Regions from separate parts of the Homo sapiens genome. Here region 2 is linked to region 1. A link means that fine-mapping ties the variant in region 1 to the expression of a gene that starts in the linked region. Tissue or cell type: blood mononuclear cells. Region 1 holds a variant in brackets; the other region holds the start of a gene. All regions are shown on one strand. Distances are from middle to middle.

Region 1 (5,715 bases):
TTGTACAATTATCATGCTGGTCCTTTGTTTTCAACTAGACTCCTTGAGTGTCCTACTCCTTGTAACTATTTGCTAATTGATTATTCTTTCAGAATCAGTATTTCAAGCATCCAAAATGTGTAGGAGAATATGGACCCAAGAACGGAGCAGAGAGACAAATAGAGGAACGGAAAGTTTTGCCTACAACCATGATGTTCTCAATGTTAGCTGACTGTGTTCTAAAATCCACTCCAATTCCCATTTTGGGAGTTGCTATGTGATGAAGGTCTGCCCCTGTGGTGTTGGGACAACTTGCTCATGGAGTTGCAGTTCTTGCCTAACAGGAACCCACCATGGTAAGAAAAAGACTCAAGCTGGTTTATTTGTTTTTAAGGTTGCAAGGTAATCAAGTCCATAACCACACTTGCTCTCACATTTACCAAAATAGGCCAATCTCAGAACTAAATGATAAAAATGAAAATTAATCAGGGACTCCCATGGGCCTCACATATATGGCAGTTTTGAATCTGTTCTTTTTTTCACTATCATAATTGTTTTTTTAAACTCATTTTCTCTGCTTGAATACACAACTGTAAAAAAAAGTGGGGGTAGTGGTGGTGATAGAAATGAATAAACCCATGGAAACAGTGAGACATCTACAGAGACAAAATTAGGAAGGAAGGAAACAAAAGCAATTTCAGTATCTCTGTGCAAGGCCTGCATACCTTTCCTTGCCAATACCCGTGGATTGGGCTTGTCTCAGGAGGTAGCAGGTGTTTCCTTGACTCACACAGAAAACAAGCCCTTGGGCTTCTTGTGCTGTTAGGGCAAGTTACGTTCAGCACATGAACACTGGACCCTGCTTTGCCTGTCCGTCCTTCCCAGAAGAGACACAGATCACAGATGATCAAGTAGTTGAGAAAACAGTTCAAGAGGAGGCTTTGTATCTTTTCTTTCTTTTCTTTCCTTTTTTTTTTTTTTTTGAAACGGAGTCTCGCTCTGTTGCCCAGGCTGGAGTGCAGTGGCATTATCTCGGCTCACTGCAGCCTTTGCCTCCCGGGTTCAAGTGATTCTCCTGCCTCAGCCTCCTGAGTAGCTGGGTTTACAGGTGCCTGCCAGCACGCCCAGCTAATTTTTGTATTTTTAGTAGAGACGGGGTTTCACTGTGTTAGCCAGGATGGTCTCGATCTCCTGACCTCATGATCCACCCGCTTCAGCCTCCCAAAGTGCTGGGATTACAGGCATAAGCCACAGCACCCGGCCCTGTGTCTTTTCTTAATTTGAGCGAACTTAAAGTAAAAACGCTTCTTAACATTATAAAGTAGGACTATGTCCCCTCCATTGAATTTTTGTAAAAAAGTCGAATAGGGATAGAAAGCAAGCAACCAGATAGAATATCATGCCCCAGAACATCATTTACCTTGGTAGAACATTACCACTTTAACACATAGAAACCTTTTCACACTAGTTAACAAATAGCATTAAGCATGATTCAAGTCAAGATTTTAAAAACTTGGCTGATGCCTCTCATTAAGAGTTGAAAACTATATAAGACTCTTGCTCCAGGAAACTGTGTTCTGACATTTTAATAGTATTGCGTTAGCAAGAGCAGAAAATCCATGAACTTAGATTCACAGAAAGTAAATCAAGAATCCATCCAAAATGGAGTGCCTCTTGCTGAGTGATGGGATGGTTTTCATGTGAGATGTCAGTGCAGCTTCTATACTTGACATAAAAGTTCCCATTAAAAAAAACGGAACTGCTGCTCAATTTTTTTTTCATCAAGCAGAGTTACCTAAAGTGCTTTTTAGAAGAGACTATTAGGAAAGGAATGGAAAGTAGTCATTATGACTAATCTGCTTTAGGAGTTGGGGTAACCAGTATTACAGGAGGGACTTTCAGAGCCATGGGGACCTTTTAGGCAACTCAAATTCCTTCAATTGTTTGCAGTGGTCCTCTCGAGGGGATGTAATGAGTTGACATGCACCAGAACAGATAGAATGCACTGCCAGCTGGTAGTTTACTCTTGTACAGGAAGGCTGCTTTTCTAACACACAACTCTTTGTTGTGTTAAAGAGAAATAAATATATAAAAGCCTAAAAGTAAGCTTTCAATTCTTTATGTCTGGCAAAATTGTCAGTACAATGTGCCTTGAGGATATATCCATGGTGCTGTCTTACAAGGTTATTACGAAAGAATAAGCTCATACTATAATAACCACCCCATACACTTTACAGTTTATGAAGAACTTACATATACATTTTCTCAGTTGAACCTCACAACATCAGTGGGAGGCAGGGGAGGCAGATATTATTATCTCTTGAGAGGGAGTGACCCTGCTGCTGCTGCTGTATATGTGTGGCTTTTGGTTTAGGAAGACTAAGTTGATTGTGTTGTATTTTCAAGTATTTTATATCGTACAAGGATGTTTATTGCAGCACTGTTTATAACAAGGAAAAATTGGAACCTACTCGAATGCTTGCTAATAGGGGACTCATTAAACTATGGTACAAGCTTAGATATGACTCTGTAGTCATTAAGAATTTTGATGAGGTATTAGAAAGAAATGTATTGATGTTGAAGTATATTTATTGATGAAGGAAATTGTTCACAATATTTCAGCCAATAAACAATAGTATATGCATTTTTTTGTAATAGGAAAAAATGCACACAGTAAAATAGTGGTTATCTTTGTGTGCGGTGAATATGTATGATACTTGTTTTCTTTTTCATGCTCACCTATCAATTCTAATCTTAGTGTCAATAAATATTAAAAATGTACTATCTGACATTTTCAGCGAGATTAACTTTTACAATGAAAGTTAATGGAAAATATATGGCTCCACCTCTGGGCCTCACGGGTAGAGTGATCTTGGGCATGTAGATGTGTCAGCCATGGTCGTGGCAAGGCCCTGAGTTCAACTAGATGGCACAAATTGAGTGTGGATCAGGTGTGTCTTACAGTGCTGTGCAAAGGGATAAGGAGCAAACAAGGGTGACAAGGCACCAGACACCAGCAACACTGGGAAGCCACGATCACTCCTAGGGCCAAAAGGACAAAAGGAGGAAATAGAGTTACCAAGTTACCAGAGCCCTGGGGACAGGAGTTGTGAATGAACTCCCCTCATTCCATGGGAGCTACAACAGCAAAGCATCACAGGCTTTGTTAGACACCAGTGAAGACAGGAAGAAGTGCCCTGACCTCTTTCCTCCTGTATTTCCTGC[T/A]GGTGCCTTCTGCTGACCAAGCCCTATGGGAAGCCAGCTGGCAGGAGATTCCTAGAGTCAGCCTCCTGGTGCATAGCAAGGGGCAAAGCAGGGCAAAAAATGCGTCTGGCCATTGGGGCTGTGCAGCAAACACAGTGAGCAGAACACAGGTCAGTCCCTGAGAGAAAAGGGTGTTTCTTAGGAAGCTGAAACAGAAAGGAAGAGCCTGTTGGGGCAGGATGGCCTGAGTAATTTGATTTTTTTGCCTGTGCTCAGAGCTTCAAACGTGTGGGAATGGGATCACAGATCACCGAATGCAAACTGAGAACAAAATTTCTTTATGAAATTTTATGCAGAGATAAAATTGTGTACCTTTGGACCCCAATAATATCATCCTTGCTGCTTGAAGAGAAGAGGGGACTGCCAGGGAAAAGAAGACCAAAGTCATCTCAGATGTACCTCACTGCTTCCTGCTGTCCCATCTTTATTCCTATGCTCTCTCTCACTTCAGTGTCTTTGTCACCAGCCCCACATGATAGCTTAACAAGAGGTAGCATGCATCTGGTGAACACTTGCTTAAAGCAAGCAGTGGGGGAGGCACTGTTTGTGGTAGGCACTCAACATGATTAACTCATTTATTTCTCACAACAACCCTATGAAAAAAGTGACATTGTTCCCCAGTCTACTGAGCAGCTAAGAACATTGATAATGGAGCCAGGCTGCTTAGATTTGAATGCTGCCTCTGCCATTTCCCAGCTCTGTGACTCAGTTTTCTCATCTGTAAATGGGGATAATAATAGTGTCTACCTACTGGGATGGTTGTGAGGATTAATTGGAGAAATATGAGTAAAGTGTTCTGAACTGGGCTTCACATAGCAAGCCTAAGTCTCCAGTTCCCACATAAGGAAACTGAGGCATAGAGATGTTAAGGTACTTGCCTCAAATCATAGGGTTGATAAACAGCAGACCTGGACTCTGACCAGGAAGTGGGGTTCCTTCCTTCATGTGGGCTCTGAACCACTATCCAGTATTGCATAAAAGGGCCTTTCCCATTCCCTCCCTGCTACTTTGAGCAGAGAGAATGGGATCACCCTCACTAACTGCCTAAATGAGTCTCTCACATTTTGGAACACGCTCCCCACTGCCCAGATGAAGATCTGCAGAAATCTCATCAATGCTTCAAACCGTATTCCTCCAGGGTCACTTCCCACTCGCTCCAGGCAGAAGGAAGAGTGCAGATCCCCAGCAATGGTCAGCAGCAGATGGGGGCAGGGGTGTAGTGGCTTTTTTGTCTCATCTTCCTTGGGATCAGACAAAACGGAGGCTGGAATTGTGAGGTTTTCAAGGCCCAGGTCAGCAGGTGGGTCTTCAGTTTCCAAAATATACACCATGGAGAGTCATGACTAAAGCACACTCCAGCTCAGCTATCTGCTCTGGGCCAAAATAGGGGATGGGGCAGCCTCCTTCCTTGCATGGAGAATGCCAAGCACATCACCATCATCAGTTAATCCCCTAACCTATGTAGGGTCAGGAGCAGTCACCTGGGTAAAATAATGAGGAAAAACCAACATGAAACATCAAGGTAACTGACAGAACTCAGATGGGAATTGAAGAATTCTTTAAGCCTGGGCCACAGCATGATCTCTCGTGTTCTTTATTTCATTTCTTGAAAACTAGCTTACCTGTATTTCTTTCTTGCCTTCCTCTTAGCCAGGGGCTTTATAACAAGATTTTTTGTCAGTCTCATCTTTCATTTCAGAGTGAAATATGATCAATTACCAATGACAACAGAACACACTGAAAGCTGTGTCACCAGTGAGTCAAAAGTCCTCAATGTAATGTCCATGACTTGTTGAAAACACAACAATCAAGTGGCCATTCAACAAATCTCTTTTCCTTCCACTCTTCTTCTTTCTTTTTTTCTGGCCTCGTATTCAGTGTACATTGAAATAATATGAATGCAACAAGATGTCCTCAATTTCACAGGTGCCTAGTGACCAAAGTCAAAAGAGATTGCCTAGTGTTCATAGAAAACAGAAACTCTTCCAAAAACATCATGCACCAGTGAAAAGTATATAAGTTTGCAAAATGTTGGTTGGTGCTTCATTTTCTCATTTTACTCATCTTCATAAAGTTGCTTTTAGGAAAGGAATCATTTAGTCAATTATAATAGTTCTTCACTGAAACTGAGCTGGGTCACACATACTGCTGAGTGGTGCCCTGGCTGGAGCCTGGCATCTGGCCTGGTGAGAGTAGGAGGCAATACAGAAGAGGCTCTGTAGACAGTTTCCTTATCTGTCAAATGAAAGGGATAGGCTAGCCTTAAATAATATGTAAGGTTTCTTTCAACCAAAAAAACATATGGTTTTCTCCCTAGCTCTGGACCTGAGCTATGTTCTGAGTTTTTAATTAATTCAGAAAATGCTCTTAGCTTTGAACCGAGTGTAGGGGCATCAAGATGTGAGTAGCAGAGATAGGAGAGTAGGTGGATGCTGGGCCTTTGCTGCCCATAGTAGGATTTTCTGGTGATTA
Region 2 (5,715 bases), 68 kb before region 1:
TTTAGTCAGATGCTGCCCCTCTTACAATTTACTTAATTATAAATTAAAGATGGTTTAAGAGTGTATCTCTCAAGTCACTGTCCTTGTATTTGACAAAATTTCCTGGCCAGGGTTAAAGTCTGGAATTCTAATCCAAATTTTCCTCATTTGGACATGCTGAATCAAACTGGCCACTACAGAGACAAAGAGTATGCTTGTTGACTTTGAAAAACTAAAAACGCTTTGTTCCTAATGACTAGGGAGCAGTGACCTGGGAGACTTGATCTGTTTGGTAACTGTGGGCGAGAAAGACGAAATATATCTCTTTGGGTCAAGACTTAGCATTTGTAAAGTAAGGAAGACCACAGGATGTTATTCAAAGCCTTTGCCAAGGCTTTGGTTGGAAGATTTAATGGAATCCACAGGCAGAGAATAGGGTGAGGGTAGGAGGTGGGGATACAGGTTAGGAAGGTTGGTTTATCCTTTCTGTTCCCAGGGGCATTTCTTCTATCAGGTCATTCCCTCAGCTGCAAGGCCTCCTGTTTGCCTCTAATGCTACTTCCAATCTGTCCATGCTGCAGGGCCCAGGTTATACTATATTGCCTCTATCAAGTCTTCCCGGATCACTTTAGCATGCACCAGTAACTCATTTTCAGAACTCACTCATTTCCTGAACTCTTTACTCATTCATTAAACATGTCATGTTACAGAATATTTCTCTTCTGGTATTTCACTCATTTTGCTCCTAAATTTTATCTTGAGGAAGCAGATCAGAAAAAAAGAAACGACATAGACTTTAAGGGCACATTGACTTCACTTGAATCCTGCTCTAGGGCCCCTGCCTTGCAGAACTCCAGGGGCCAGTTAGATAGCATGCAGTCCTGACTGGTTCTACCACTCTGGAGCAACTGTCTATGACCACCTCAAATCCATTGTGGAATGCAAATGGGGCATACTGTATTAGTTTCTATTGCTGTTCCAACAAATGACTACAAACTCAGTGGCTTAAAATAACACAAATGTATAACTGCTATAGTTTAATATCCCCTCCAAAACTTAGGTTGAAATTTAGTTGCCATTGTAACAATGTTGAAACATGGTCTTACAGGAGGTGATTAGGTCATGAGGGCTCTGCCCTCATGAATGGATCAAGGCTGTTAATCACAGGAGTGTGTTAGTTATCAAAGGAGTGGGCTCCACATAGAAGAATGAAGTTCTGGTTCCCTTCCTCTCTCTCTCTCGCATGCTCTCTTGTCAGGTAATGCCTTCTGCATGTTATGACACAGCAAGAAGGCCCTCACCAGATGCAGCCCCTTGATCTTGCACTTCCCAGCCTCCAGATCCATAAGACAAATAAACTTCTGTTATTTATAAGTTACCTAGCCTGTGGTATTCTGTTACAGCAGCAGAAAATGGACCAAGATATCTTACAGTTTTGGAGGCCAGAAGTTCACAGTGGGTTATCAGGGCAGGGCGTCTTCAGGAGGCTTGGGGTGGAGGGGGAGGAATCTGTTTTCTTGCCTTTTCCAGCTTCTAGAGGGTGCATGCATTCCTTGACTCATGACCCGACATCACTCCAATTTCTGTTTCCATTGTCACATCCCTGTCATTCTCACTCTTATCTTCCTATCTACCCCCTTATTAAAGACCATGGCAATTACACTGGGCCCACTCAGAAAGTCGATAGTAACATCCCCACTGCAAAACCTTTCATCACCTCTTCAAAGCCCCTTTTGCCATTTGAGGTAACCTATTCACAGCCTTCAGAATTTTTGAAGGAGGGGAGGCATCATTCTGCCTGCTATATACATAGTCTTTGGATCTCAGTTTCCACATCTGTAAAATGGAGAACTACTGTCTTCCCCACAGGGCTATTGAGATGATTGAATGAAGTAATTTCTGCTTATGAATTCCCAGCTCTGTGCCTGCCATGGAGGCAGGCAATTCTGATCCATGTTCTCTTCTGAGTGGGTTGTCAGCTGGAGGCCTTCTACTTCTTTCTAATCCATTAGCTTCTTGCTAGTGCTGCGTCCCCAGGAGGAAATCAGTAAATGCAAGAAATAATTACCTTGACAATGCCTTGCACATAGTAAGTACCCTAAAATAATTCATTGAATTGTTTGTTATTTTGGTGTTAATGGATGGGGATCATCTGATTAAATGTTATTATTTATTAGATCTAAAATATAAATTTGGATTCTTCTGTTGCACTTTTACCTAATTACTCTAAACACCAGTGGGAGAGAGGAATTAGTCACAATACAACTTAAAGAAAAAAATATCTTGCTGTCACTGACTTCTCTCCTTGGTCTGAAAACTTTCTGATTTTGTAGGATGCCACTGACTGCTCTTTCTGCAACTGAAAAATCTCTCAAAGGGCCCTGTCCAGTTAGGTCACACAAAGCCAGGCTGATTATTTAGAGAGAACACAATGCTCCCTCACATGGGGCACAGAGAGGAAGGAATTTTTTTTTTAAGCCAATTCCAGTCCCTGGAGCTGCAAACTGCCCTCAGGGCAAAGAAGCCTGCAGAATAATTGGGAGGAGTCTGGCAGGAAGGAAGCCAAGGTAAGTTAAGCTGCATTTCTGTCTATAGCCAGGGTCTCCATGCCACTTTTTAAACATCCCCTTCTGGGATAAACCTGTATGTCAAGATAAACAATTAAATAATATGCAAGGGCCAAATCAGGAAAACTGCAGCTTCAGCCCTAGAAAACAATGCCAAGAAACACCAGCCTGTCTGCCGCTGCTAAGTCGAGGAGATGGGTTCCCATGATTCCGTAAGAGAACTGGGTCAGGGAGGAGACACTGTCTGTTTAGAATATGCTTCAGGCCCCTAAACTTGGTCGGTTTATGCTTTTTCAGGTTAATAAAGTGGAAAATAACTTTACCTCATCCCTCTATCAAAGCATAGTGCGGCTGCCCCAGAGACCCCTAATACAGCCAGGGATGATGTGTTTGGAAAATGGGGCAAGAGAGGGTCCAAAGATGAGACCCCAAAACTGTGAGGGGGAGGTTGTGTGAGGAGGACAGACCAGAGCTGGAGGGGGACTGTGAGAAGAGGAGTCTGGTTGCTGCCGTCTCTGAAGGGTCTTCCTAGGCTCCCACACCATCATGTCTTGGCCAGCCAAGGCCAAGTGGTTGTGTAAACTTAGGATGGTCATAGAATCCTGAACTACTAGCACATGGGGGTTGAGCTTGTCTGAGGATCTTTTTGAGGAAATGGGGGAAGTATTATTCATGTAATGTGTGACCAGAGTATAGAAATCATGATCCCAGCAGATGGCATGAACGGACACTGAATAGTCCGAATGTCTCATCTCTCTGGACAGAGCAGGCTGGTGGGATCTGGGCAGTCGGGCTGGCTGAGGAGGCATATTTCAGAGTCCAGAGCGAATCCCAGCAGTAATGCCTGGGAACAAAGCCAACTGGTGCCCAGGGCAAGCAGCCCAGTTCTGGGGTCAGGCTACCAAGGTTGTACCAGGCAAGAGAAGAAGGGTGAGCAGGGGAATATTCAAGAGCATCCAAGAATGCAGGGAGCTAATGAGCATGGGAGTGCAGAACTGAGGTCAGAAGGCGTGGCCAATGGAAACTCCCAGCAGCCCTGTGCAGGGGCTCTGCGGATACCTGCTAGCTCTTGGGGCTTAAGCACGCAGTTCGGGACTGGCAGCTCAAAAATGTCTTGAGCAGATTGGCCCCTCAGATAAAGTGGGACACACAGTCTTTTTTTTTTTTTTTTTTTTTTTGAGACGGAGTCTCGCTCTGTCGCCCAGCCTGGAGTGCAGTGGCGCGATCTCTGCTCACTGCAAGCTCCGCCTCCCGGGTTCACGCTATTCTCCTGCCTCAGCCTCCCGAGTAGCTGGGACTACAGGCGCCCGCCACCATGCCCGGCTAATTTTTTTGTATTTGTAGTAGAGACAGGGTTTCACCATGTTAGCCAGGATGGTCTTGATCTCCTGACCTCGAGATCAGCCCTCCTCGGCCTCCCAAAGTGCTGGGATTACAGGCTTGAGCCCGGTTGGGACACGCAGTCTTTAAGAAGTACTTAGGAAGGGCAGTCAGGCTAAGCAGTGGGCTGTACTTTGGGACCCTTTTGCCACAGAACAGAGGGCAGCCTCTGAGTCTGGCCGTGTGTCGTAATTCCTGTGTTGGAACAGCCCCACCCTAATGAGGGCATTTAGATATTTACTTCCATCTACACTCTCCTTGGGTAGGGCGGCAGCAGAAATAACTGGCTTTGAGGCCTCCACCTTGCAGGGTCCCCTTTTTCACTACTAACGCTACCTCTCAGGGCATCCCAAATTCATGGGAATCCCATTCTGAGAAGCCCCAGTATAGGTCTGGATGTTGGATAAGAACCAAGGGCGGTGTGATGCTTATACACTGGGACAGAGTAGGCCTGCCTGATTTAGCAAATAAAACCACAAGATGCTCAGTTAAATTTGAATTTCCAAAAAGCAAAGAGTAAATTTTTTAGTACATGTCTATCCCCAACACTGCAGGGACATACTTATATTGCAAATGATTTGTTCTTTGTAATGAAATTCAAGTTTAACTGGGAATCCTGTATTTTGCAGGCCACCGTATTACAGAGGCCCATATGGAACCAGCTGGTCTGAGACAAGCCCAGGTTCTGGGCCAAAGCAAAACAGGCAGGTGTTTGCTCAACCTCTGCTAAAGGTCTATTTTTAAGGCTAGATGCTGAATTAGGAGAAGAAGCTTATGAATTGAATAAAATACTATTTGCCATCAAAACCCCTTTGAATTTTAGCTAGTAATTCACCCATAAAGTGCCACCCACCAGGGAGCCTCATACGGTTTCATAAATACATATGAGAGCTGCTGTGGAGAGAGATGGAGCCCGACGCAGGCACCGGACACAACATCCCACAGCTTCCCCATGGCTTTCAGAAAGCTTGCAGATATTTCTCTCTTCTGTTCTGAACTCTCCACAGAGAAATCTGTCAAGGGAGAAAGCAATGACTTTGCTCTCACTGGGCCAGAAATTCCATGGCTGAAATGACCCAGGGGTAGCAGGCGGGTTTGACAATCTGTCAGTTTCTGGATAGTGTTACTCGTCAGTCACTCATTTTTGCTAAATTGCAGAAACTCTTTTCTTTAAATGAAACTTTATTTGCTCATGATGCAGGTTAAGCCCAGTTTCTGGCATGTGTCCAGGGAATTGGGTGTGCCACCCTGTCCACTTGGTCATGGGGAAACCGTTAAGTCAGCCTTCAGTCTGGACATCTCTGCTCAAGGCTTTAGTTAATTTTTCTTCCCATCTGAGACTTAACCGCTGGGACTGTTTTACATATGAAGATAAGAAAACAACCGAAACTTGATTTTGCTCTATGGAGATAAAAATAAGGTAGCATTTTATTCAAGAAGAATGTGTGTAATAACAGTAATCTGAAAATAATGATATCTATAAGGTCTTTGGCAAAGCCACCCAGGAAAAGAAAAACAATAGATGTGAAAGCTTCAGTGAGTCATAACACCACCTTTCAGCATCAAAATGCCCTGGAATCAGATTCAGATAAACTGGTTTCATCAGCTCTAGACTCAGCTGTATGCGTCCCTTTTTATTCCTTGTGCCGATTGCACATTCTCCAGATAATGGCAAGGTATTGGCTCTCCTTCAAAACACTCAATTGTGCAGCAGAGGAAAGAAAAGGATTCCTTGTAAGCTTTTTCATGTCTAAACACAAAAATAGCTCTCTTCCTGGGCCTGCCCAGT

The links. PIP is the estimated chance that this variant, and not a neighbour inherited with it, causes the effect.
Region 2: it holds the start of LINC03122, and the variant in region 1 is fine-mapped to the expression of LINC03122 in blood mononuclear cells (TOPMed, PIP 0.92).

What each region holds. Positions count from the first base shown.
Region 1 is chr5:61,703,774-61,709,488 of GRCh38, forward strand. All of the region lies in intron 1 of LINC03122 (long intergenic non-protein coding RNA 3122), which reads left to right. Among named protein-coding and RNA genes, the nearest start is that of LINC03152, 8.2 kb to the left of the region's middle. The variant T/A (reference allele first, on the strand shown) is at 3,205.
Region 2 is chr5:61,635,301-61,641,015 of GRCh38, forward strand. LINC03122 (long intergenic non-protein coding RNA 3122) reads left to right here and starts at 2,481. Exons shown (of 2, transcript NR_126525.1): 1 at 2,481-2,546.